Homo sapiens: one gene and its partners. The protein of the gene in region 1 interacts with the protein of each later gene in a pairwise test. Each region holds a gene or a part of one and is shown in the gene's direction. Other genes may lie near its edges. The genes, in order: CFHR5, STOM, SLC10A1, EBAG9, TMEM237, TMPRSS2 and ARL13B.

The links.
Region 2: the proteins of CFHR5 (region 1) and STOM interact in binary tests that used the Homo sapiens proteins (3 or more experiments, as listed by UniProt).
Region 3: the proteins of CFHR5 (region 1) and SLC10A1 interact in binary tests that used the Homo sapiens proteins (3 or more experiments, as listed by UniProt).
Region 4: the proteins of CFHR5 (region 1) and EBAG9 interact in binary tests that used the Homo sapiens proteins (3 or more experiments, as listed by UniProt).
Region 5: the proteins of CFHR5 (region 1) and TMEM237 interact in binary tests that used the Homo sapiens proteins (3 or more experiments, as listed by UniProt).
Region 6: the proteins of CFHR5 (region 1) and TMPRSS2 interact in binary tests that used the Homo sapiens proteins (3 or more experiments, as listed by UniProt).
Region 7: the proteins of CFHR5 (region 1) and ARL13B interact in binary tests that used the Homo sapiens proteins (3 or more experiments, as listed by UniProt).

The regions. Positions count from the first base shown.
Region 1 is NC_000001.11:196,987,556-196,991,055, forward strand, and holds part of CFHR5 (complement factor H-related protein 5 precursor), read left to right. Parts: intron 1-3,500. UniProt on the Homo sapiens protein: Involved in complement regulation. The dimerized forms have avidity for tissue-bound complement fragments and efficiently compete with the physiological complement inhibitor CFH.
Region 2 is NC_000009.12:121,353,251-121,356,750, reverse strand, and holds part of STOM (stomatin), read left to right. Parts: intron 1-594; coding exon 595-698; intron 699-2,077; coding exon 2,078-2,150; intron 2,151-3,448; coding exon 3,449-3,500. UniProt on the Homo sapiens protein: Regulates ion channel activity and transmembrane ion transport. Regulates ASIC2 and ASIC3 channel activity.
Region 3 is NC_000014.9:69,780,242-69,783,741, reverse strand, and holds part of SLC10A1 (hepatic sodium/bile acid cotransporter), read left to right. Parts: intron 1-3,500. UniProt on the Homo sapiens protein: As a major transporter of conjugated bile salts from plasma into the hepatocyte, it plays a key role in the enterohepatic circulation of bile salts necessary for the solubilization and absorption of dietary fat and fat-soluble vitamins.
Region 4 is NC_000008.11:109,560,673-109,564,172, forward strand, and holds part of EBAG9 (receptor-binding cancer antigen expressed on SiSo cells), read left to right. Parts: intron 1-165; coding exon 166-257; intron 258-3,500. UniProt on the Homo sapiens protein: May participate in suppression of cell proliferation and induces apoptotic cell death through activation of interleukin-1-beta converting enzyme (ICE)-like proteases.
Region 5 is NC_000002.12:201,626,504-201,630,003, reverse strand, and holds part of TMEM237 (transmembrane protein 237), read left to right. Parts: intron 1-151; coding exon 152-275; intron 276-582; coding exon 583-774; intron 775-1,854; coding exon 1,855-1,928; intron 1,929-2,589; coding exon 2,590-2,683; intron 2,684-3,500. UniProt on the Homo sapiens protein: Component of the transition zone in primary cilia. Required for ciliogenesis.
Region 6 is NC_000021.9:41,480,659-41,484,158, reverse strand, and holds part of TMPRSS2 (transmembrane protease serine 2), read left to right. Parts: intron 1-3,500. UniProt on the Homo sapiens protein: Plasma membrane-anchored serine protease that cleaves at arginine residues. Participates in proteolytic cascades of relevance for the normal physiologic function of the prostate.
Region 7 is NC_000003.12:94,039,155-94,042,654, forward strand, and holds part of ARL13B (ADP-ribosylation factor-like protein 13B), read left to right. Parts: intron 1-725; coding exon 726-834; intron 835-3,500. UniProt on the Homo sapiens protein: Cilium-specific protein required to control the microtubule-based, ciliary axoneme structure. May act by maintaining the association between IFT subcomplexes A and B. Binds GTP but is not able to hydrolyze fit; the GTPase activity remains unclear.

The DNA.
Region 1 (3,500 bases):
GATCCAGTTTCAGCTTTCTACATATGGCCAGGCAGTTTTCCCAGCACCATTTATTAAATAGGGAATCCTTTCCCCATTTCTTGTTTTTCTCAGGTTTGTCAAAGATCAAATGGTTGTAGATGTGTGGTGTTATTTCTGAGGCCTCTGTTCTGTTCCATTGGTCTATATCTCTGTTTTGGTACCAGTACCATGCTGTTTTGGTTACTTGTAGTATAGCCTTGTAGTATAGTTTGAAGTTAGGTAGCCTGATGCCTCCAGCTTTGTTCTTTTTGCTTAGGATTGTCTTGGCAATGCAGCCCCTTTTTTGATTCCATATGAACTTTAAAGTAGTTTTGTCCTATTCTGTGAAGAAAGTTAGTGGTAACTTGATGCGGATGGCATTGACTCTATAAATTACCTTGGGCAGTATGGCCATTTTCACGATATTGATTCTTCCTCTCCATGAGCATGGAAAGTTCTTCCATTTGTTTGTGTCCTCTTTTATTTCGCTGAGCAGTGGTTTGTAGTTCTCCTTGAAGAGATTCTTCACATCCCTTGTAAATAGGATTCCTAGGTATTTTATTCTCTTTGAAGTAATTGAGAAGGGGAGTTCACTCATGATTTGGCTCTCTGTCTGTCTGTTATTGGTGTATAGGAATGCTTGTGATTTTTGCACATTGATTTTGTATCCTGAGACTTTGCTGAAGTTGCTTATCAGCTTAAGGAGATTTTGGGCTGAGACGATGGGGTTTTCTAAATATACAATCATGTCATCTGCAAACAGCAACAATTTGACTTCCTCTTTTCCTAATTGAATACCCTTGATTTCTTTCTCCTGCCTGATTGCCCTGGCCAGAACTTCCAACACTATGTTGAATAGGAGTGGTAAGAGAGGGCATCCCTGTCTTGTGCTGATTTTCAAAGGGAATGCTTCCAGTTTTTGCCCATTCAGTATGATATTGGCTGTGGGTTTGTCATGAGTAGCTCTTATTATTTTGCCATATGTTCCATCAATACCTAGTTTACTGAGAGTTTTTAGCATGAAGCGCTGTTGAATTTTGTCAAAGGCCTTTTCTGCATCTATTGAGATAATCACGTGTTTTTGTCATTGGTTCTGTTTATGTGATGGATTACATTTATTAGTTTGTATATGTTGAACCAGCCTTGCATCCCAAGGATGAAGCCAACTTGATTGTGGTGGATAAGCTTTTTGATGTGCTGCTGGATTTGGTTTGCCAGTATTTTATTGAGGATTTTCACATCGATGTTCATCAGGGATATGGGTCTAAAATTCTCTTTTTTTTGTTGTGTCTCTGCCAGTCTTTGGTACCAGGATGATGCTGGCCTCATAAAATGAGTTAGGGAGTATTCACTCTTTTTCTATTGATTGGAATAGTTTCAGAAGGAATGTGACCAGCTCCTCTTTGAACCTCTGGTAGAATTCTGCTGTGAATCTGTCTGGTCCTGAACTTTTTTGGGTGGTAGGCAATTAATTATTGCCTCAATTTCAGAGCCTGTTATTGGTCTATTCAGAGATTCAACTTCTTCTTGGTTTAGTCTTGGGAGGATGTATGTGTCGAGGAATTTATCCATTTCTTCTAGATTTTCTAGTTTATTTGCGTAGAGGTGTTTATAGTATTCTCTGATGGTAGTTTGTATTTCTGTGGGATCGGTGGTGATATCCCCTTTATCATTTTTTATTGCATCTGCTTGATTCATCTCTCTTTTCTTCTTTATTAGTCTTGCTAGCAGTCTGTCTATTTTGTTAATCTTTTCAAAAAACCAGCTCCTGGATTCATTGATTTTCTGAAGGGCTTTTGTTGTCTCTATCTCCTTCAGTTCTGTTCTGATCTTAGTTATTTCTTGCCTTCTGCTAGCTTTTGAATGTGTTTGCTCTTGCTTCTCTAGTTCTTTCAATTGTGATCTTAGAGTGTTGACTTTAGATCTTTCCTTCTTTCTCTTGTGGTCATTTAGTACTATAAATTTCCCTCTACACACTGCTTTAAATGTGTCCCAGAGATTCTGGTAAGTTGTGGCTTTGTTCTCCTTGGTTTCAAAGAACATCGTTATTTCTGCCTTCATTTTGTTATTTACCTGGTAGTCATTCAGGAGCAGGGTGTTCAGTTTCCATGTAGTGGTGCGGTTTTGAGTGAGTTTCTTAATCCTGGGTTCTAACTTGCTTGCACTGTGGTATGAGAGACAGTTTGTTGTGATTTCTGTTCTTTTACATTTGCTGAGGAGTGCTTTACTTCCAACTATGTGGTCAATTTTGGGATAAGTGCTATGTGATGCTGAGAAGAATGTATATTCTGTTGATTTGAAGTGGAGAGTTCTGTAGATGTCTATTAGGTCCGCTTGGTGCAGAGCTGATTTCAAGTCCTGGATAACCTTGTTAACCTTTTGTCTCATTAATCTGTCTAATAATGACAGTGGGGTGTTAAAGTCTCCCATTATTATTGTGCAGGAGTCTAAGTCTCTTCGTAGGTCTCTAAGGACTGGCTTTATTAATCTGGGTTCTCCTGTTGGGTGCATATATATTTCGGATAGTTAGCTCTTCTTGTTGAATTGATCCCTTTACCATTATGTAATGGCCTTCTTTGTCTCTTTTCATCCTTGTTGGTTTAAATTCTGTTTTATCAGAGGCTAGGATTACAACCCCTGCTTTTTTTTTTCCTTTCCATTTGCTTGGTAGATATTCCTCCATCCCTTTATTTTGAGCCTATGTGTGTCTCTGCACGTGAGATAGGTCTCCGGAATACAGCACACTGATGGGTCTTGACTCTTTATACAATTTGCCAGTCTGTGTCTTTTAATTGGAGCACTTAGCCCATTTACATTTAAGGTTAATATTGTTATGTGTGAATTTGATCCTGTTATTGTGATGTTAGCTAGTTATTTTGCCCGTTAGTTGATGCAGTTTCTACCTAGCATAGATGGTCTTTACAATTTGGCATGTTTTTGCAGGGGCTGGTACCGGTTGTTCTTTTTCATGTTTAGTGCTTCCTTCAGGAGCTCTTGTAAGGCAGACCTGGTGGTGACAAAATCTCTCAGCATTTGCTTGTCTGTAAAGGATTTTAATTCTTCTTCACTTATGAAGCTTAGTTTGGCTGGATATGAGATTCTGGGTTGAAAATTCTTGTCTTTAGGAATGTCGAATATTGGCCCCCACTCTCTTCTGGCTTGTAGAGTTTCTGCCGAGAGATCCACTATTAGTCTGATGGGCTTCCCTTTGTGGGTAACCCAACCTTTCTCTCTGGCTGCCATTAACATATTTTCCTTCATTTCAACCTTGGTGAATCTGACAATTATGTGTCCTGCTCTTCTCGAGGAGTATTTTTTTGGTGTTCTCTGCATTTCTTGAAATTGAATGTTGACCTGCCTTGCTAGGTTAAGGAAGTTCCCCTGGATAATATCCTGAAGAGTGTTTTCCAACTTGATTCCATTATCGCCCTCACTTTCAGGTACAGCAATCAAACGTAGATTTGGTTTTTCACATAGTCCCATATTTCTCGGAGGCTTTG
Region 2 (3,500 bases), on another chromosome or scaffold:
TCGGCCTCCCAAAGTGCTGGGATTACAGGCGTGAGCCACGACGCCCAGCCTCCACTTTCTTTTCGTCGATATTTTCTTACTATTACATCCTTCAGGAAACCCTCTGACAGCCACCTGAATCACCTCCCCGCCCCATTCCTTTCTCACCTCCATCCTAACTGCGTGAGTTAACTCATTCTGTGTCTTCAAAATATTCTGAACAGATACTCTATATCTGTACTTACCACCTAATATTATAATTATGTGTTTGTCTGACTTTCCCACTAAACTTTAACCCTGAAAGCTGGGATTGGGTCTTACTCATTGTTATCATTTCAGTACAAAGCAGAGGGCCTAATAAATAGTAGATGCTTAATAAATGTTTGCTGAATAAAGTAATGAGTAATGTGGAAATATACTTGTGTTATGACATCACATAGATAAGGGAAAGTAGTACTTACACTTCAGGGCTGTATGAGGATTAGATGGGGAAATTCATGTAAAACAGCTGGTGTAGTGCCAAGCACATAGGTATTCAGCGAATGGTAAGGATGAAGATGGTGGTGATTATGCTAGTAACAGTTGTGAGAGTTGTATATTTTTTGTTTTCAACAGACAGCCCCAGTAAGGGCCTTGGACCTTGCGGATGGATTTTGGTGGCGTTCTCATTCTTATTCACCGTTATAACTTTCCCAATCTCAATATGGATGTGCATAAAGGTAAAGAACATTTCATTCACTTCTGGGAAGGGGTCAACTCCTACCTCCATAAACCTACTTCGTGTGTGCCTGTGTGTATGTGAGAAAGAAACAGACTGTCTCTCTCTCTTATAATTCTTATTTCTTCATCTTTCTTTGGAAAATTTATTCTTCTACCCACCTATTAAAATGGAACCTTAAAACTTCTTTTCAGCCATTGCCCTTCCCCGTGGGCTAAAGTAAGTTTCACCATCAAAAATTTCCTGGGGCCAGGGATGTGAGATGGTTCTGAGAGAACAAGTTCTTCAGAGTTAGGATGATAGGGTTTGACTGCTGGCTTTACTGTTTATTGTGTGACCTTTGCTGTTTCCTCACCTGTAAAATGGGAGAAAGTAACAGTACCTACTTCATAGGAGTGTTGCGAGGATTAAATGAATTATGTGTCTAAATGTACTTATCACAATGCCTGGCACGTCATAAATACCCTCAGTGCTCGTTATTTTTTCTACAAAGTTGTTAATACTTTGATATATGACTATTATTTACATATTTCTAAGAAGATAAAATATGCTCCAAGCATTTTCAGATCAATTTATTCTTAAGGGAATCAGAAGAAAAACTGTGAAGACTTCAGCTTTTTGTGTTTCTGAATTAACAATGCATGAGTAATTTTTTTTTTTTTTTTTGAGCCAGAGCCTTGCTCTGTCGCCCAGGCTGGAGTGCAGTGGCGCGATCTCGGCTCACTGCAACCTCCGCCTCCCAGGTTCAAGCGATTCTTCTGCCTCAGCCTCCCGTGTAGCTGGGATTATTATTATTATTATTATTTTTTTTTTTTTTTTTTTGAGACGGAGTCACCTTGTGGCCCAGGCTGGAGTGCAGTGGTGCGATCTCGGTTCAAGTGATTCTCCTGTCTCATCCTCCCTTGTAGCTTGGATTATAGGCACCCACCACCATACCCGGATAATTTTTGTATTTTTAGTAGAAACAGGGTTTCACCATGTTGGCCAGGCTGGTCTTGAACTCCTAACCTCCGTGATCTGCCCACCTCGGCCTTCCAAAATGCTGAAATTACAGGCGTGAGCCACCGTGCCTGGCCTGCATGAGTAACTGAATAACAATGTTAACAGCTGAGGAGTGAGGTTATGGATTTGTTTCTGTATACTATTCTGTCCTTCCTAAATTTATACAGTGAATATCTATTGCTTTTGTAATCAGTAAGAAAATAATAAATAAGCTTTGAGAAGGTAAACATTGGACATGTGATTTATAGATATGATCTGGTTCTAAAGAAAAAAGATGAGGCATCTAATCTGTTTAGAGCAGAAATATATATTTAAGAAGCCATGCATGTATATATTTGTACTCTTCATGTTAAATTATTATTCATGTTTTTATTCTAGATTATAAAAGAGTATGAAAGAGCCATCATCTTTAGATTGGGTCGCATTTTACAAGGAGGAGCCAAAGGACCTGGTCAGTACTGGGATTCTAGATTGTTTATCTGAAAACTAAAGTTCTTTTTATTTTTTTTATTTTTAGGTAGTTGTTTTTTTAAAGACAGGGTTTCATTCCGTCGCCCAGGCTGGAGTACAGTGGCATGCTCATGTCTCACTGCAGCCTTGAACTCCTGACCTCAAGCAATCATCCCACCCCAGCTTCCCAAAGCACTAGGATTACAGACGTGAGCCACCGTGCCCAGTCTAAAATTTTTTTATTGACGTGATTTCCCTTATGAGGGCCTCTTCTACTCTGTCTTAGATAAGAGTTCATGTAGCAGGAGTTGTATAACAATAGCAGTGGTTCTAGCCAATCTTTTGTTACCCTTTCCTTCCTACCCTTCCCCTCCCCTTCCCATTTGAGCTGATAAGATTACCACCTAGGCCAAGAACAGTACAGCTATACAAGTTTGAGCATGAGAATCTCTACCAAAGAAAGACTTTCAGTCATTCATTTGGCAAACTTCAATTAAGCTCCTACTGTGTTCCAGGTTCTGGGAATTCAAGGGAGACTAAAACACAGTCCCTACCCTCAAGGATCTTCCTATCTAGTGGTAGGAACCAACAAGGAAACAGATAGCTACAATCCTATGTGATAAGTATTATGATCAAGTACTCACAGAGAGCTGTGAGAAAAGAGAAAACCAGAGAAGTGTTACTGATCTGAACTAGTCGTAGGCTGAGTCAAGGCTTTCTGGAAGTTACATCTTGACTGAGTCTTGAGGTCTGAAAAGGTGTTAACCAACAGGAGGTGTTTGCGGCGGAAATAGCAACATACACAAAGCAACAAAGAGGAGAGTATTGCAGATTCAAGAAACTGCAAGTAGATCAGTCCAGCAAGAGTGCAGGGTGTGAAGAGAGAGGAAGTGGCTGAAGAGGGGAACAAAGGCGGGTTATGCAGGACCATGCGTGGGGGAGGGTTTGTATTTTAGGGGGGATTGCTCGGCTTGCAGCTTAGGAAATAGATTATAGGAGAGAAACTACAAAAAATAGAAAGATGGCCTGGGAAACGATTGCATTGGTCCCAGTGGGGCGGTGGGGAGAAGAGTGATAGCAACAGTAGATTAAGGAAATGAACTCCACAGACCTTAGTGGAGACAGTCAAATGTGGGAAGTAAGCAAGAGGAATCAAAGTTATCATTCCTGGCTTCTGGCTCATTCACGAAGATGAACTGGTGACTTTTCAGTTCACTAGGTTGATTTTCTTAAAACTGAATGGAGAAGTGAACTGATTAGGTTGCTGGTGTCTGTATAATGTGTGTATCTTTGTTGCAGGTTTGTTTTTTATTCTGCCATGCACTGACAGCTTCATCAAAGTGGACATGAG
Region 3 (3,500 bases), on another chromosome or scaffold:
CAACCTCCTCACCCAGTTCTAACCTGAGGGTGAAGATGTGAAGTACAAACTCTATCATGTCACTCCACTGCTTAAAGCCTCTCATTGACTCCTTCCCCCTAGGATAGTTTAAACTCCTTAATGTGGCACTTCTTGATTTGGTTTCAACTGACCTCACCAGTCTCAGCTCTTTTCTCTTTGCACGTGCCCTTCTCTTCACCTGGAACACTCTTCTTCCCAATTCTCACCCCACTCACCATCTTTCACTGGATCACTCCCACTCATCCTTTAAGTCTCAACACAAATAGCGCCTCCCCCAGGAAGCCTTCCTTAACCTCCTAAGCCTGAGTAAGATGCTTGTCCTATTCACTCCCATAACACCCAACACTCCAGCTAACCCCTGTAGCAATTATTACACTGCATTAAGAACATCTGTTCATTTTTATTCCCCACTCATTTATCAAGAAGCAAGACCATAAGGCTGTCTTAATTAACACTGAATCCACAGCACCTATCACAGTGCCCCCATAGCTAATGCCTGAGAATAAATAAAGGAATGAAGGGCAAGTCCTGTCTGCTGCTCTTCCACACACCAGCAGAAAAACAACATACACAGAGAAACATGTTTGTGTGCATCATTTCATTTTTTTAAGATAGTTTGTGGGGTGCATAAGATTGCTTTTTTAAAAAATCCTATACACCCATAAACGATCTTAAAGAAATGCATATAAAATATAAAGAATATTAAAATGTGAAGTGACCACTGCTATCATTTAATGCTACTCTGCCCTCCTCCATTTTATAGGTGGGAAAACTGGGAAACAGAATACCAAGTCATAGTGCTAATGACAACTGATGTGAGAACATGTCTCTTTTCTACCTCAGAGTAGCTTTAAAAGTGTTTCTCTGAGGTTGCAAAAAGCAGAATCTCAGACCCTTTTTTTTTTTTTTTTTCGAGACGGAGTCTCACTCTGTCGCCCAGGTTGGAGTGCAGTGGCGCGAGCTCGGCTCACTGCAAGCTCCACCTCCCGAGTTCACACCATTCTCCTGCCTCAGCCTCCTGAGTAGCTGGGACTACAGGCGCCCGCCACCATACCCGGATAATTTTTTGTATTTTTTAGTAAAGACGGGGTTTCACCGTGTTAGCCAGGATGGTCCCGATCTCCCGACCTTGTGATCTCCCCGCCTTGGCCTCCCGAAGTGCTGGGATTACAGGCGTGAGCCACCACACCTTGCCGAGAATCTCAGATCTTAAAGCTGGAGAAGCCTTTAAGATGAAGTTCAGTCTCCTGCCTTATTCCCAATTTGCAGATAGAGTAACCGAGGCCCGGAAAAGTTACTTGGCAGAGCCAGGATTATTTCAACCAGTCTGTTCCTGTTGTGTTGCACATTCACTACTCAATGCCACAGACGAAATGAAGTCAAAATGAAGCCAGAGAACATTAAAAGGGCTAAGAAATACCTTGGCTGGAAAAACAGAGACTAGTAATAAGGGACTACATAAAAGGTAATCTAAAAAACCCAGGCATGCCCTGGACCCATTTTGCCCCTGGCTAAACCTCCAGGGTTAAACCACCACAAAGTCAACAGCTACACTGATCTTCCTATATTCCAAAACTGGAATCACTCCTGTGAGGATGCAGAGACTAACATGTGGGTCAAGCTGCAAAAGCTAAGGTTTCCTTGCTTCTATGGCTCTTCGAGGACTATGCTCATCCTTCGTCACCCTGTCCCATAAATAATATAGTGAGTGCCAAACTGGAAAACGAACAAATGATTGTCCTAGCCTCTTACGCACACATAACCCTCCTTGGACCTTGCAAATCAAAATAACCCAACTTTCAATAACTAGCTCTGGCAGCAGGTATCTGCTCACACCGGGTTCAACCAGTTGCATTCGCTGGTGGAAGGTCACATTTAGATATACCAAGATACAATTTCAGGCATGCTCATTTTAAAAGGCAATTCAAGTAATTTTTAACTTACCCATGCAAGGGTTTATCCAAAGGCTATGTGGCTAAAAGGGTGATGAATCTGAGAATGACATGGTCCAGGAGCCACTTTCACCATAAGCCATCCACCACTCTTTAATAAGGATCCCACCATTTCATTGACTCAACACTCTACTCATGCATTTCCCACACCTGCTGCTACTGCTGAACTGACCCCTAACTCTCCTTTGTCTTACAACTTCTGCCAACTTGTGGCTATTGCTCCCAGACCTCTGTTCTGACACTTGTCCCTGCTATTGCTTCCCTCTCTGTAATCCTGCAAACTTCCTAAATGAGAGAATCTGATTATTTCTACCACTCACCAGCCTGTGCGGGCCACCTTTGTGGGTAGACTGTGGACATGTCATCTCATGTGTAAGCCAATGGATTGGCTGCCCATGAATGAGCACTCATCCCAGTTGTGAGCAGGGCAATGAAGTCAGGTGGTACAAAATGTGGTAGCCTATGGAGAAGCAACTACCCGGGGCCACTTGTCTCAGCAGGAGACAGGGGTTGTAGACAGGATAAATTTCCAGAGATGGCAGCAGTGAGAGTGACAGGAACCTCTAGAATGTTAATTCCTCCCCTTTGAGTAATAACAGGAGTTACAGTTTAGTGAGCGGTTCTTATATGCCAGGTCCTATGCCGTCAACCTCACTCAGGTTGAGTGACTCCCCAGAGCTTACACACCTGGAGACTAGCAGAGGCAGCTTTCCCACCAGGATCATATCAAATTATGTGCTCATAACCACAACTGTGCAGTCCCCAAGAGTCAGAGAACATGAGTGAGAGAATAAGAGTGAATGCCTATACAGAAGAAGAGGGCTTCTGGATTCGTGGACAATTCCTGTAACTCAATGTCTCCTACATTATCCACTCCACTCTTGATAGAGATTAAAAATTATTTGACTGTTGGGTAAAGGACAAATTCGAAAGACAGAAATCTAAAAGGGGAAATCAACTAAAAATGCAAAGGTAAACTGAGAAGTTCATTAGCTAATAAGTCTTTTAATAAAACTTGAAGCACATGGTTATTCAAGAGATGTGTGAAAGTCCTTCCTATGCTGGGATAGGACCACTAATTGGTATAGGTGATGTTTTATATGATCATATCAGTTGCAACAAGTATTAAAAACAGAAACACAAAGCTGTGCAGCTGAAATTTGAGCAATATAAATGTTAAAATGTCGTTAGGACATTATGAATGTACTTAATGCCACTGAACTGTACACTCAAAAGTGATTAAAATGGCAAACTTTGCTATACATATTTTACTTTTTTAAAATGTTACTAGGAAATATAAAATGCAACACATGTGAATGAACCAAAAAATGAACCAACACATGTAACTATTACAAAATAACATGGTAAGTTTGAGAAAAGTTAAGTATTTCTTTACTCAGGAGATAAAAGGGACAGTCTTAAATTTACACATACCTGTTTATCATTTTGGAGGACGCAATTCTCTAAAATGCACACTGGAAAGTACAAAGTGCATGGAGTGCACATGCACTTTGAAAGGTTGCATCC
Region 4 (3,500 bases), on another chromosome or scaffold:
CAAAAGCAAAATCATCTGTGCCTTGTATAGGACAGGGTAAGGAAGCTGAGAAGACATAGGAGAATGACAGGTTCTGAGTTATGTGTTAAAAGATACTCTTTTTAACGGCTATGTGGAGAAAGGATGGCTTTTACTCTCTTAATTTTGTTTTACTTTTCATTGTAGTCTGAATTAGGTGACTTAGATACCTGGCAGGAAAATACCAATGCATGGGAAGAAGAAGAAGATGCAGCCTGGCAAGCAGAAGAAGTTCTGAGGTATTTGAGTGGCATTTATATTGCAACCTGAGTAGAAGAACTAGATTTCTTCCCTGCTGTGTTTCAAGTCAAGGGAGCCTATTTTGCCAAATATTATATTTTTCTTCATTTGATCCTTAGATAATAAGGACTTTTTTTTTTGTATTTCAGACTGCAGATACTATTTTATATGATTAAAACCTCACAGAAACCAAGAATTTTAAGCTCTATAGGAACAAAATAACTTTATTAATGGCAAATGGAGTGTTATATATACATGTATATAAAAGGTTTTATATATATGTTTTATATATATATATATAAGGTTATATGCATATACATACCATATTACAAGCTTGATATTCCTCTAGGTCAGAAGTTACAACTTTATTTCCATTTCCTCATGATCTAGCATAGTGCCCAGTACTGCTCATTTGAGTGAAAATAACTTATGTGACACTCTACATTTGTACATATATCTTAAATGATGTCCATGAAAGCCCTATGTGTTAGATGAACTACCCATTCTGCAAAAAAATACTATTCTGGAAGTTTTAAAGTTCATTTTTATTGGTTGTTCTTTTTTGTGTGTGAGCAGCAAACATATTTCTTAGTACTGCTACATTAGGTCAAAGAGTAAAGAGAAAATTTATCTTAAGGGAGAGCTAGTGACTGATTACTGCTTTTTAAAAGTCAGATATTTAAATGCATCTAAAGAATTCATACATTTTTTAAATTGTGTAGTAAGATACAGCAATATAAATTTTTTTATTTTAAAATTGAGATTGTTTTTACCATAGGAATAGCAGACAAATTATTCTTTATCTGACTCAACAAAAAAACTGATTTCATTTTTGTATTTTCCTTTCTTGGCTTTGTCAATAAATTACAGTTACTGTGAACAACCAGCAGAGGGTGCAGCTAAATAACTGGGAATTTTGTTTGAAGTTTTTGTTTTTTTCCTTTGAAATATATCAAGCCCTTTTTTTTTTTTTTTTTTTGCAGGTTAGGGGACGTCACATTTCAAAATTCAGTCAGTAAAATTGTGAGAGTTTTTAAAATTTAGTTCTTATTTAATCAGTATAGCTTATCTTTTATAAAGGGAATATTTTTTAAATTGTGAACTATAACACTTAGGATATTGCATGGATCATCAAAAAAGATAAATCATCTCTTTAAAATTCTGTGTTATTTTAAAAAACAAATAATAGATACAGATGTCTGAGTATTTTAAGACATTTTGGGGATTCTAGTAATTATTAGTGCCATTAACCACAAAGACAAAGGAAGGGGTCTGTCCTTTTTAAATACAGTAATCTCACTGTAGAGTTCAAGCCATGAGTTCACAAGTATCTTAATATTGTACAAAAACCTTTTCTTTTTCATTCTAGCCTCTTAACCCCTAAGCAAAACAAATGAAAAAATGTACTTAAAAACTTAATGTTTTACCCTTTAAGGACAGCTTGGGAGAGTGAGATTGTTAATCCGTAATAGACATGCTTCATGCCGCAAGTACATAGGTAGAGCCAAAGAGAAATGGAGGTGTCAGTACATTGTTACTGCCCCTGAATAGACATTGAGCATTTTAAAAGTGTATCCACATTCCGTATTGTCTAACTCTGAGCTTTTTTCCTGTTGCCACTATAAATAATGCCAGTACTGTGATCAGTATTGCTAAGAATGAAGATTCTGGTACTTTAATAATTCCCAGCATGAATCTGGATAGGTAAAATGTATTTTTGTCTGCAGCTATCTCGTAAGTTGTCTCTTTTATACTTTAGTTTTTGATACAGATTGGGTATCCCTTTCCAAAATGCTTGGGACCAGAAGTGTTTCAGATTTTGAAATTTTTGAGAGTTTAGAATATTTGTGTTCTGCTGCTAGTTCATCATCCCAAATATGAAAATCTAAAATCTGAAATGCTCCAATGAGAATTTCCTTTGAGCATCAGGTAGGCCCTCAGAAAGTTTCAGATTTTGGAGCATTTCAGATTTCGGATTTTTGTATTTGGGATGCTCAGCCCTTATATTATTTCAGCTAGTAACCAGGTCAAAACTTCGTTATCTTACTTGTTTATAACCTAGCCAGCCCTTTATAATTTTTTCTCTACCTCCCTTTTTTCTTCTGGTTTGACATTTTTAGTTCAGATTATTAGTTTTTATTGAACATCAGCAGAGTGATGAAAAACAGATTTTTTAAAACTATTCTTCAGAAATTGATAGCAAAAGTCAAAATGTTGCCAAAAATAGTTTCTTTACTTTCTTGAATTTTGGTCATCCATAACTCTGCCTACTCCTGTTTATGACTGAGAACTGTACATACATTTCACTCACTGTAGTTAATATTGAGCTCCCCCAGACATAGATAATCCACTTTGGATTTTTCTGCATATAACCTAATGTTGCCTATTCCATGCCCAATTGTGACCTGTAGCTTCCTTCCTCAACGTTGCATACTTGAATGATTTTCTCACACCCTAACCCTTCAGATCCAGGACCAATGTATGTTTACTCTGCTCTCTCCTGTTTCATCATCCCACTCCTACCTCCACTCCCTACATTAACCAATCAGTAAAGATAGAGAGAGTGAGTCTGGGTCAGTGGAGTTACGGAAAGAGTAAGGAACAGGTATGTATTTCACAAAGTATGATTAGTAAATACCTACCACTCTTTTTTTTTTTTTTTTAAACTTAAGTTCAGGGGGACATGTGCAGGATGTGCAGGTTTGTTACACAGGTAAACATGTGTCAAGGGGGTTTGTCGTACAGATATTTCATCAGCCAGGTATTAAACCTAGTATCCATTAGTTATTTTTCCTGATCCTCTCCCTCCGTCTAACCTCAGCCTTTCCGGTAGGCCCCAGTATGCATTGTTCTCCTCTATGTGTTCATGTGTTCTCATCATTTAGCGCCCACTTATAAGTGAGAACATGCAGTATTTGATTAAATACCCACCACTCTTCTCTTTGGTAGAGTTAGTCACATGTTAATCCTGAAATTTACTTGGTGGAAGGTGTATCTTAAGTTTCCATTTTCTTTTTGGAGCGTGTGTTCTGTTCAGCTGTGTTCATCATGCACTTTAAAAACTGGCTGTTTGTAACTACTATAATAACAGGAGATTATCAAGCTCAATATCAAGCTTTTCTGAATGGTATCCCCAGAAAAAGATGTGGTTCAATGGAAGTATTGTTTTACAAAATGGAGATAATCTAAATAAGAAGTGTCAGAAGATGTGAGTTCTTATCCCTGTACTTAATCCTATGACT
Region 5 (3,500 bases), on another chromosome or scaffold:
TGAAATAGGTACTGAGTCAAGGAGAATTTTCAGATAGAACAGCAATATTTCAGTCTTAGTTTGCGGCTTCCTGAGTATGGAATTTAAAAAAAAAAATGGCTACCAGGGTTCTCTCTCGCTAGTTGTTAGTAATTACGTTATGTGTTCTTAGGGAGATTCCAGGCTGCTGATCGTTCAGAGTTGATAAAGACCACAGAAAACATAGATGTGTCAATGGACGTGAAGCCTTCCTGGACCACCAGAGATGTGGCACTTACAGTGCACCGGGCTTTCAGGTGGCTGCTTTTGTTGGACTTTTCTTAAAATAAATGTTAACTGAGTTCTGTAATTAAAGAAAAAAATAACCTCTTGGTTGTTCAGTATTATTAATGAAATCACAACTTAAAATGGTAGGTAGGTATATTTTTTAAACATCCTATTGGAATTGAGTGATCTACCTATCAGTGTAACTAAAAAGAAAGAGCTTGCTTTTACTTGTCATGAAATGTTGAATTTTATTCTTGTATATGAAGAGATTTTAAACATGTTTTAGCTTTTTACTTTAGTAATTCATGTATAATAATCAAACCCTTTTCCATTCAGGATGATTGGTCTCTTTTCTCATGGATTCTTGGCTGGCTGTGCTGTGTGGAATATTGTTGTGATATATGTTCTAGCAGGAGATCAGCTATCCAACCTCTCAAACCTTCTGCAACAATACAAGACCCTAGCGTATCCATTCCAGAGTCTTCTGTACTTGCTTTTGGCTCTGAGTACAATTTCAGCTTTTGACAGGTAATGCCTATGACTCCAGATCTGTCTAACTTCTTCAGGAGGAAATGCTGAGCAAAATGTGTCACTGACCATGATAGTTTTCAAAATAGAATTATAGAGTATCAATGTTACTTCAAAAAGTTTTAAGGCCAGTCTACTTCTGTTCTTTTTTGAGGGGATGAGACCATTGTAAACAAAATATTCCCAAAAGACTTCACCCATTCCAGCATCAATTCATAAGTCCAAAATTTCATCCAAATATAGTCAACTCAGAAGTTCCTAAATGTCATCTAAATCAGGTATAGGTGAAACTCAGAGCATTTGTATTTGTCTCCTAGCACTGCTGTAACAAAGTACCACACACTGGCTGGCTGAAAACAGCACATTTATTCTCTTATGGGTCTGGAGGCGAGCAGTCTGCAATCAGGATGTGGCCAGGGTTGATTCCTTTTTCCAGGGCTCTGAGGGAGAGTCTGTTTCATGACCTTCCCCTCACTTCAGTGGTTGCTGACAGTCCTTGGCATTCCTTGGCTGTAGATGCATCATTCCAATATTTGCCTCTATCGTCATGCAGCACTTTCCCCCTGTGTATCTCTGTATCTGTGTCTATTCTAATAAGGACAGCAGTCATACTGGATTAGGGTTCATCCTAATGACCTTATCTTATCTTTATTACATCTGCAAAGACCCTGCTTCCAAATAAGGTCACATTCATAAGTACTCCAGGTTAGGAGTTCAACATATCTTTTTGGGAACACAATTTAGCCCCTTTTAAAAAAAATCCACCGAGTTAGAGCCCAATGATATGGGTAATAGAAAGAGGTAGAAACTAATGAAATTTTATAGATCAAGTTTAATTTTCTTTAGGATGTTTTAACCCCAAAGGAATGTTGTCCAAAGTAGTCTAGTTAGATGTTTTATGTGGCCTTTGTAAATTAGATAATTTTGTCATGCGTGTTAAGTATACACTGTAGCTACTTAAAACCTAGTAATAGTATATGTGCTAGCATTAGACTAGAGAAGGAAAAAACTATAGTCAAGAAAGTAAAGTTTTGTTAAGTTTACAACTGCGCTGTGACAAGAAACTTTTATATTTTCTAGGATTGACTTTGCTAAAATATCAGTAGCAATCCGAAATTTTTTGGCCCTGGATCCTACAGCTTTAGCATCTTTCTGTGAGTAAGCAGTTTAACATGATAACTGTGTAATACTTCAGTTATACCATAATTTTGAACCAGGATAAATATAATTTTTTTTAAAAGTTGTATTACTGCTCCTTATAAACATTACCTATAGATGTTCAGTGAATTTGTAATTAGAAACATAAAAGGCATAATATTGATAGAATTATTTTTTCAATTGAGGTTCATCTAAATAACTTTGAAAAGCTTAATTTATTGTACTATATTACTTACTTTTTAACTTTTGTATTTTCTACTTGACATTAAACAGATTCAGCGGGTATGGCCTTTTAATAACAAACAATATTTTATATCTTTCTGATCATTTGGAATGCATTTTGTTCTAAGTTTTGAGAATATTAATAAAACTAGTTTTAGGACCTTGAGCAAGTCATTTAACTTTTAAAAAGATGTTCTAGGTTCTTGTCAGTTCTAATGATGAAATAGTGAACGTCTCAAAAGATCCTTCTGCACCTATTGTTCTCAAAAATTTATATAAGGATGTCTGGCCTATTGAAATATATTTATTTGGTCAAATAAATTTCTTTTATATCATCAGTCATGAAAGTATAGATTATTTTCGATATTAATCTATAAATTCAAAATAAACCAGGTTGTTAAAAATTATTAGTAATTTCATTTGTCTTTTTCTCAGTGTACTTTACTGCTCTTATACTATCTCTGAGTCAGCAAATGACAAGTGACAGAATCCACCTTTACACACCTTCTTCTGTTAATGGTAGCCTCTGGTAAGAATTCACAATGACATTAGCAATTGTTAATGGCAATAACAGCAACTTTTCTTATCCTTCCATTCTTTTTCAACTGCAAATAATGAAGGCTCTGTTTTTGTTTCCAAATATATGGCAAGAAAATACTTATTCCTTTGGTTAATGGGTAACTATTGTTATGTCCACCTGCATTTTTAATGAAATATCTTCCTTTTAAAAATCTGTTTTAGATCTTCAAGTTATAGTTTTTTTTTTTTTCGAGATAGAGTCTCGCTGTGTCACCCATGCTGGAGTGCAATGGCACTATCTCGGCTCACTGCAGCCACCGCCTCCTGGGTTCAAGCGATTCTGCAGTCTTAGCCTCCTGAGTAGCTGGGATTACAGGCACCCGCCATCATGCCTGGCTAATTTTTGTATTTTTGTAGAAATGGGCTTCACCATGTTGGCCAGGCTGGTCTTGAACTTCTGACCTCAGGTGATCCACCCGCCTTGGCCTCCCATATTGTTGGGATTATAGGCATGAGCCACTGCGCCCAGCCAAGTTATAGTTCTAAAATAAGTCATCATATGATGGACGGAAGGAGCCCTGCATTCTTACCCCCTGTCAGGGAGTTTCATATCCCAGAACAGTGATGGGAGTGAGTAGCTGGGATAGATTCAGAAAACCAAGCAATGCTAGAAAGAGCGGAACAGGGAGAGCCAACATCTGCAGATCAGCGGCCAGCCATGAAGCTGACAGGATGGCTGAGATTATAGTTCATAAAACTTAGAGAAGCAGTCTTTTTTTTTTTTTTTTTTTTTTTTCCCCAAATGCTGCACGTAGCATCCAAAAGTA
Region 6 (3,500 bases), on another chromosome or scaffold:
TCACGCTGTACACATTAAACATGTACAATTGGGTTTTTTTGAGACAAGGTCTCCTTCTGTCACCCAGTCTGGAGTGCAGTGGCTCAGTCATGGCTCATTGCAGCCTCGACCTCCTGGGCTCAATCCATCCTTCCCCCTCAGCCTCCTGAAAAGCTGGGGCCACAGGCATGTACCATCATGCCAGGCTAATGCATATATATTTATATTTTTTGGTGGAGATGGGGTTGGTCTCGAACTCTGGGCTCAAGTGATCCTCCCGCCTTGCCCTTCCAAAGTGCTGAGATTACAGGCATGAACCACAGCACCAGGCCTACATGTAAAATTTTTATTTGTCAACTATACTTTGACAAAGCTGAGAAAAAAAATCCTAATATTTAAAAAAAAAAAAAAAAGGACTAGCTTGAGACCTTTTCCAGCTCTCTGGCTTATCAGCTGCCGTCTCTTCCGGGTGCAGATAGCTGGAAGGGAAAGAAAATCCCTAAAATTACCCACAAGCCAAGAATGAAGTGTCTCCCTTTGAGCCACAGTGGCAGTTTTGTTTTTAATCATAGAAGTGTATTTTGAGCCGGGTGTGCTGGCTCACGCCTGTAATCCCCGCACTTTGGGAGGCCGAGGTGGGGGGCGGAGGGGGTGGGGATCGCCTGAGGTCAGGAGTTCGAGACCAGCCTGACCAACATGGAGAAACCCCGTCTCTACTAAAAATACAAAATTAGCCGGCGTGGTGGTGCATGCCTGTAATCCCAGCTACTCATGAGGCTGAGTCAGGAGAATCTCTTGAACCCAGGAGGTGGAGGTTGCGGTGAGCTGAGATCATGCCATTGCACTCCAGCCTGGGAACAAGAAAAAAAAAGAAGAAGAAGAAGAAGTGTATTCATTTCAGTTACTTTTAAAAAAGTGAACAGACTTTATATTTTAGAGCGGTTTTAGGTTTACAGAAAATGAAACAGACAGGGCAGCGAGCTCCTTGTACTCCTCCCCAGCACACAGTTGCCCTGTTATGAACATCCCACATCAGTGCTGTGCGTTCATTAACACCGATGAACCTGATGCATACATTATGATGAACTGAAGTCCTGGACTTCACCCTTTCTCTTGTACAGTTCTGTGGGATTTGACAAATGCATAATGCTGTACAGCCACAATGATAGTATCGTCCAGAGTAGTTCTCCTGCCTTAAAACCTCTTTTGCTGCACCTGTTTCTCTCTCCCCACTCACCCCAGCTATCTGATCTTCTTAGTGCCTCCGAAGTTTTGGTCTTTTCAGGATGTTGTAGCGTTGGAATCATGGAGTATGTAGCCTTCACCACATACACCTTCCTTCACTTTGTTGGCTTCCTTTACTTAGTAATATGCATTCAAGTTTCCTCCATGCCTTTTCATGGCTTGATAGCTCATTTCTTTTTAGCACCAAATAATATTCCGTTGTCCAGATGTAGCACAATGTTTATCCATTCATGTAACCTGTGACCGACTCACAGATAGGATGTGGAATCACTCACCACAGAGGCATTAGACAATAATCAGACCCAAGTCATTTCATGGGGGAACAAGCCCACAGGTACCAGACTGTCCAGTGAGTCAGGGCCACTCGTAGGAAGTAAGAAGAGAGGCTAGAGCATAGCCAGGTCCTCACTTTATACTTTAAGCCCATGTGTATTTCTCCCAAACCACACAGCATTGTTTCCATGCTTTCAGCTTTGCATGAATAACGTGATACTTGAACGCATCATTTATCACTTGCTCTCTTTCCCACAGCGCTGTTTTCAAGCTTCTTCCTGTTCATGATGCTCTGCTTAACCCTTAAGCTGCATGGGATTCTGTTCTGTGAATACGCCCACCCCATGTATTATCCTGCCCAGCAAAAAGTCCCCAAAACTCTGGATGGTGGTTACCTCTAGGGAGGGAGAGAAGAGATTGGGAATAGGGAGCGACTTCAACGGTGTTTGTAATGTTTTGTTTCTTTAAATAAAAGAGCTGAGATCATTTCAGCAGAATGTTGATTTAGAGTCTCCTGGACAATTTGTTGCTCAAAGTGCTCTCTTAAAGAGCACTTTAAAAAAAAAAACCTTTTATCTTATTATTTATTTATTTATTTATTGAGACGGAGTTTTGCTCTGTCACCCAGGCTGGAGTGGAGTGGTGTGATCTCAGCTCACTGCAACCTTTACCTCCTGGGTTCAAGCAATTCCCCTGCCTCAGCCTCCCAAGTAGGTGGGATTACAGATGCGTGCCACCACACTTGGCTAATTTTTGCATTTTAGTAGAGATCGGTTTCTCCATGTTGGCCAGGCTGATCTCAAACGCCTGACCTCAGGTGATCTGCCCGCCTTGGCCTCCCAAAGTGCTGGTATTACAGGCGTGAGCTACCATGCCTGGCTTATCTTATATATTTTTAAAAACAGCTTATTGAGATCTAATTTATGTACCATAAAATTCAAGTATATAATTCAGTGCTTTTATATATAAAACATATATATGAAATAGCTTATTGAGATATAATTTTTTATATAAAACAGCTTATTGATATGTAATGTATGTACCATAAAATTTAAATATATAATTCACTGGCTTTTATATATTCACGAATATGTGCAACTATCACCACAGTCAATTTTAGCATATTTTCATCAGCTCATAAAGAAACCCCAAGCCCTTGAACTATCACCCCATATCCCTCCTCCCAGCCCGTCCCTCCTACTCATAAGCAACCACTAATCTACTTAGTGTCTATAGATTTCCTACTCTAGGCATTCCATGTGAGCGGGATCATGCAATACGTGGGCTCACACAATATAAGTGGCATTCCATGTGAGTCGGCTCATGCAGTATGTCCGGCTCCTTTCACTGAGCATAAGGTCTTCAGCACTCATCCAGGTTGCAGCCTGTGTCTGAATTTCATTCCCTCTTCTGGCTGAATCGTATTCCATTGTGTATCTTGGACATATCCTATTCTGCTCACCCAGCCGTTGGTGGGCGTTTGGAGTGTTTTCGCCTTTCAGCTGTTTTAAGAGGGTTGCAGTGAACATTTGTACAAGTTTTGGACCCAATGCCTGTTTTCAATTCTCTTGTGTAGAGAGCACTTTTTAGCAGAAAAAGAATAGATTTGTGGCCTCCCTTTGTGTGCGGTCAGTGCCTTGAGAAGAGTGAACTGTGCTGCCACCTCCGGAGCCGTGGAGAGCGCGGGGCTTGGGTAGCAGCTAGGACGATACAAGTTGGGACAAGGCCAGGTGCAATGGCTCACGCCTGTAATTCCAACACTTTGGGAGACCGAGGCAGGGGGATCACCTGAGGTCAGGAGTTCAAGACCAGCCTGGCCAACATGGTGAAACCCCATCTCTAATAAAACAGAAAAATTAACTGGACGGGGTGGTGGACGCCTGTAATCCCAGCTACTCGGGAGGCTGAGGCAGGAGAATCACTTGAACCTGGGAGGCGGAGGCTGCAGTGAGTGGAGATCAGACCACTGCACTTCAGCCTAGGTGACAGAGCGAGACTCCGTC
Region 7 (3,500 bases), on another chromosome or scaffold:
TTCCTAGTTTTGTAAGAGAAGACTTAGCCCTTAAGAAAAGAATTAATAAGAATAATTACTATTTGGCTGGGCGCGGTGGCTCACACCTGTAATCCCAGCACTTTGGGAGGCAGAGGCAGGCAGATCACAGGGTCAGGAGATCGAGACCATCCTGGCTAATAGGGTGAAACCCCGTCTCTACTAAAAATACAAAAAATTAGCCAGGCCTGGTGGCGGGCGCCTGTAGTCCCAGCTACTCAGGAGGCTGAGGCAGGAGAATGGCGTGAACCCGGGAGGTGGAGCTTGCAGTGAGCCGAGATGGTGCCAATGCACTCCAGCCTGGGCGAGAATGCAAGACTCCGACTCAAAAAAAAAAAAAAAAAAAAAGAATAATTACTATTTGTTAACACCAGTAAAGAGGACAGCATTGATTTTGGAGGGTAATTAATAAGTTGATCAGTAATACCCTTGGCACATGGAAGAATAATTGCACTGTTGATATTAAGAAGTCACTCATAGGAAATGTCATTTTTATCAGCATTTTTTTAATTGAAATGATTAGTCTTTACATGGGAGGAAGCAGCCTCTTACCTGCATAAGGATTTTTGAAATGCTCTCAGTAATTCAAAACCATGTCCAGATGTTTAAATTACTACATGTAATAGCCTTATACCTATTGCAGTTTTCTTTAACATGGTTCAGCACTTTCTCAAAGGAAATTTCAATTATTTTTCCTCAAACGATAGAAAACAAAATGAACAGGAGCAGGCTGAACTCGATGGAACCAGTGGTCTGGCTGAGTTGGACCCAGAACCAACGAATCCTTTCCAGCCAATAGCATCTGTAATCATTGAGGTATGAATGATGGCAAATGTAATTTTTGTATCTTAAGTTATAAGTTGGAACTTGGAAAAGAAGGTGGAAAGTTGGGAAAGGAGGCAGGGAAACAGATGTGTTTCTTCTGAGAGATTATTTCTATAAGAAATTAAACATGAGAGACTGATTAAAGGTTTACTGCTTTTTCTTACTCTTAAATTACCTTTGAATCTAGTGTGAAAGGGGGAATATGACTTCAGAATTAAATGACAATAAATAAATTTGACTGTAGCAATTATTATAGTTGCTGTGTTGACAAATCTATTCTGTCATTTATTTCATATAGTAATAACATATTTACTCTTATTTACATTTTCTGTGTTTCTGTATTGCTGTTACTGTCCATCTGCAATATTTACTTAGAATGCATTAGGGTACATAAACAATTTTCTATTTTTCCAGGATACTTAAGGATGTTTGAAACTGCAATAAATTCTCCTATATCTGAATATCATTTATTTCCATTTTAAATCAGAAATTTTACCAACATTAATTTGTAGATTTTAATTATGAAGACGTTAAGGGGTTGTGTGTGTGCGCGTCTGTGTTTTTGTTTTCATTTTCTGCTCATGTCCAGAGTTTGCATTGGCTCTGCTTTTATGGCTGGCAGCAGCGATGCCTCTTCTGAGGCATTGCTTCCTAAACCTTAGGCTGACTTCCTGGTCCTACCTGGAAGGTTTTTTTTTTTTTTTGTCTCCATTCTATCAGATATTATATTTGTCAAGTTTTGTTTTATGTTCTTTTAAAAATATTGAGAGAGAAGAGGTCAAGTTGTACTTTTTACTTTGAAACAACAATTATTCTCTGTGTATAATAAGGCTTGCTTTATAAATAATGGCTAATTATTTTATAGTACCATGGGTATAAATTGTGTAGAAGGCTCTAGTGCTTCTCCCAGCACCGTATTTCCCACAATGTATAGAAGTGAATAATAGTGGTGTACGACATAGTATATATCACATATAGAAAGTTCCCAAATTAATAAGTGGCATGGGGAAAGTACACTTAACGCTTTGAAACTACAATTTCAAGAAGATGGCCAGTAAAGAAATAAAAGCAAATTAGCTATAGTTTTTTTTTTTTAACCATACAGATTTTCTCTTTTTTTCCCCACAAAACTTTTTTAGCATGTTTCTTGGTACAGAAGCACCTAACATTTTTTTTTATTATTACTGCAGATAATTAAAATGGTGAGATATTGGAAGGTATTGGTTCCAGAAGAGACAGACAGATCAATGGAACGAATATTAATAAACCTATTTATGTATGAGCATTTTAGTACAAGATAAAGATAACATTTCAAATCTGAGAGAAAAAAATAATAGAACAACTTAATAACCATTTAGAAAAAGGAAAATTATTGAATATTGTATACCCAGTTAAATTCCAAAAGTATCAAAAACTTAAATACGTTTTAAAAAGTGAAAGTCTTCAAGTTACTAGTAGATAATATAGATAAGTCTTTATATGTGCTTGGAGGAGGAAAAAATTTCAAAGCAGGACAAGCAAGCCACAAATCATAAAGGAAAAAGGTGGATAGATCTTATACTACCCAATTTTTAAAGAGCTATTCTACAAAGTTAAAAAGCAAAAATGAAAAGAAGTAAACTCTAGTGAGAAATAGAACACATAGTCTTATGTGACTCTGTGACTAGTCCTAGTGACACGTATGCACAAAAGAACTCTTACAAATTACTATGAAAATAATGAGAATCTAATAGAAAAGTGGGCATTGGGTTACCAAAGGCAGTTTCCTAAAAAAAAATTAAAAATGTCAATAAGTGGCCAGGCACGGTGGCTCACGCCTGTAATCCCAGCACTTTGGGAGGCCGAGGTGGTTGGAGTTCAAGACCAGCCTGGCCAAGACGGTGAAACCCTGTCTCTGCTAAAAATACAAAAAATTAGCCAGGCGTGGCACGAACCTATAATCCCAGCTACTCCGGAGGCTGAGGCAGAGAATTGCTTAAACCTGGAGGGGTGGAGGTTGCAGTGAGCCGAGATCGTGCCACTGCACTCCAGCCTGGGCGACAGAGCGAGACTCCATCTCAAAAAAAATAAAATAAAATAATTCAATAATAGTTCATTTTTGCTGGCAATAAAAATTTTAACTTAAACTCAAATGAAAATAACACTAAGTTAAATAAAAATATGTATTAATACGGCAGAGATGTAAAAGGTCAATCATGATATGTGGTATTGAATATGATGTAGAAAAAAATCACTCTCCCAACCCTTTGCCTGAGGTTCATTGATTCATTTTTTCTGAAGGGAAGTTTGTGACTATATGTGACATTTTTAAATTTGCCTACCCACTGACTCAACAGTTCTACTGTTAGCAATTTAATCTAAAAAAATTAAAAAAAAGCTATTAGGATGATTCTGTTTTTTAAAATAGTGAAAAATTGGAAATACTTTGTTCATTGATACAGAATTGGTATGCTATAAACATTCAAAATAATAATTGATGAAAATAATTGTATCTAACATTTATGTAGCATTTACTATGTGTAAGGCACTGTTCTGAGCACTTTATATATTCATTGGCATGGAAAGAAATGTATATTCTTCAATAAAAACTTCAATTCTTTTTTGTTTAAACAACAAATACATAAGTATATATAGATACATATATTTATGTATGTTTC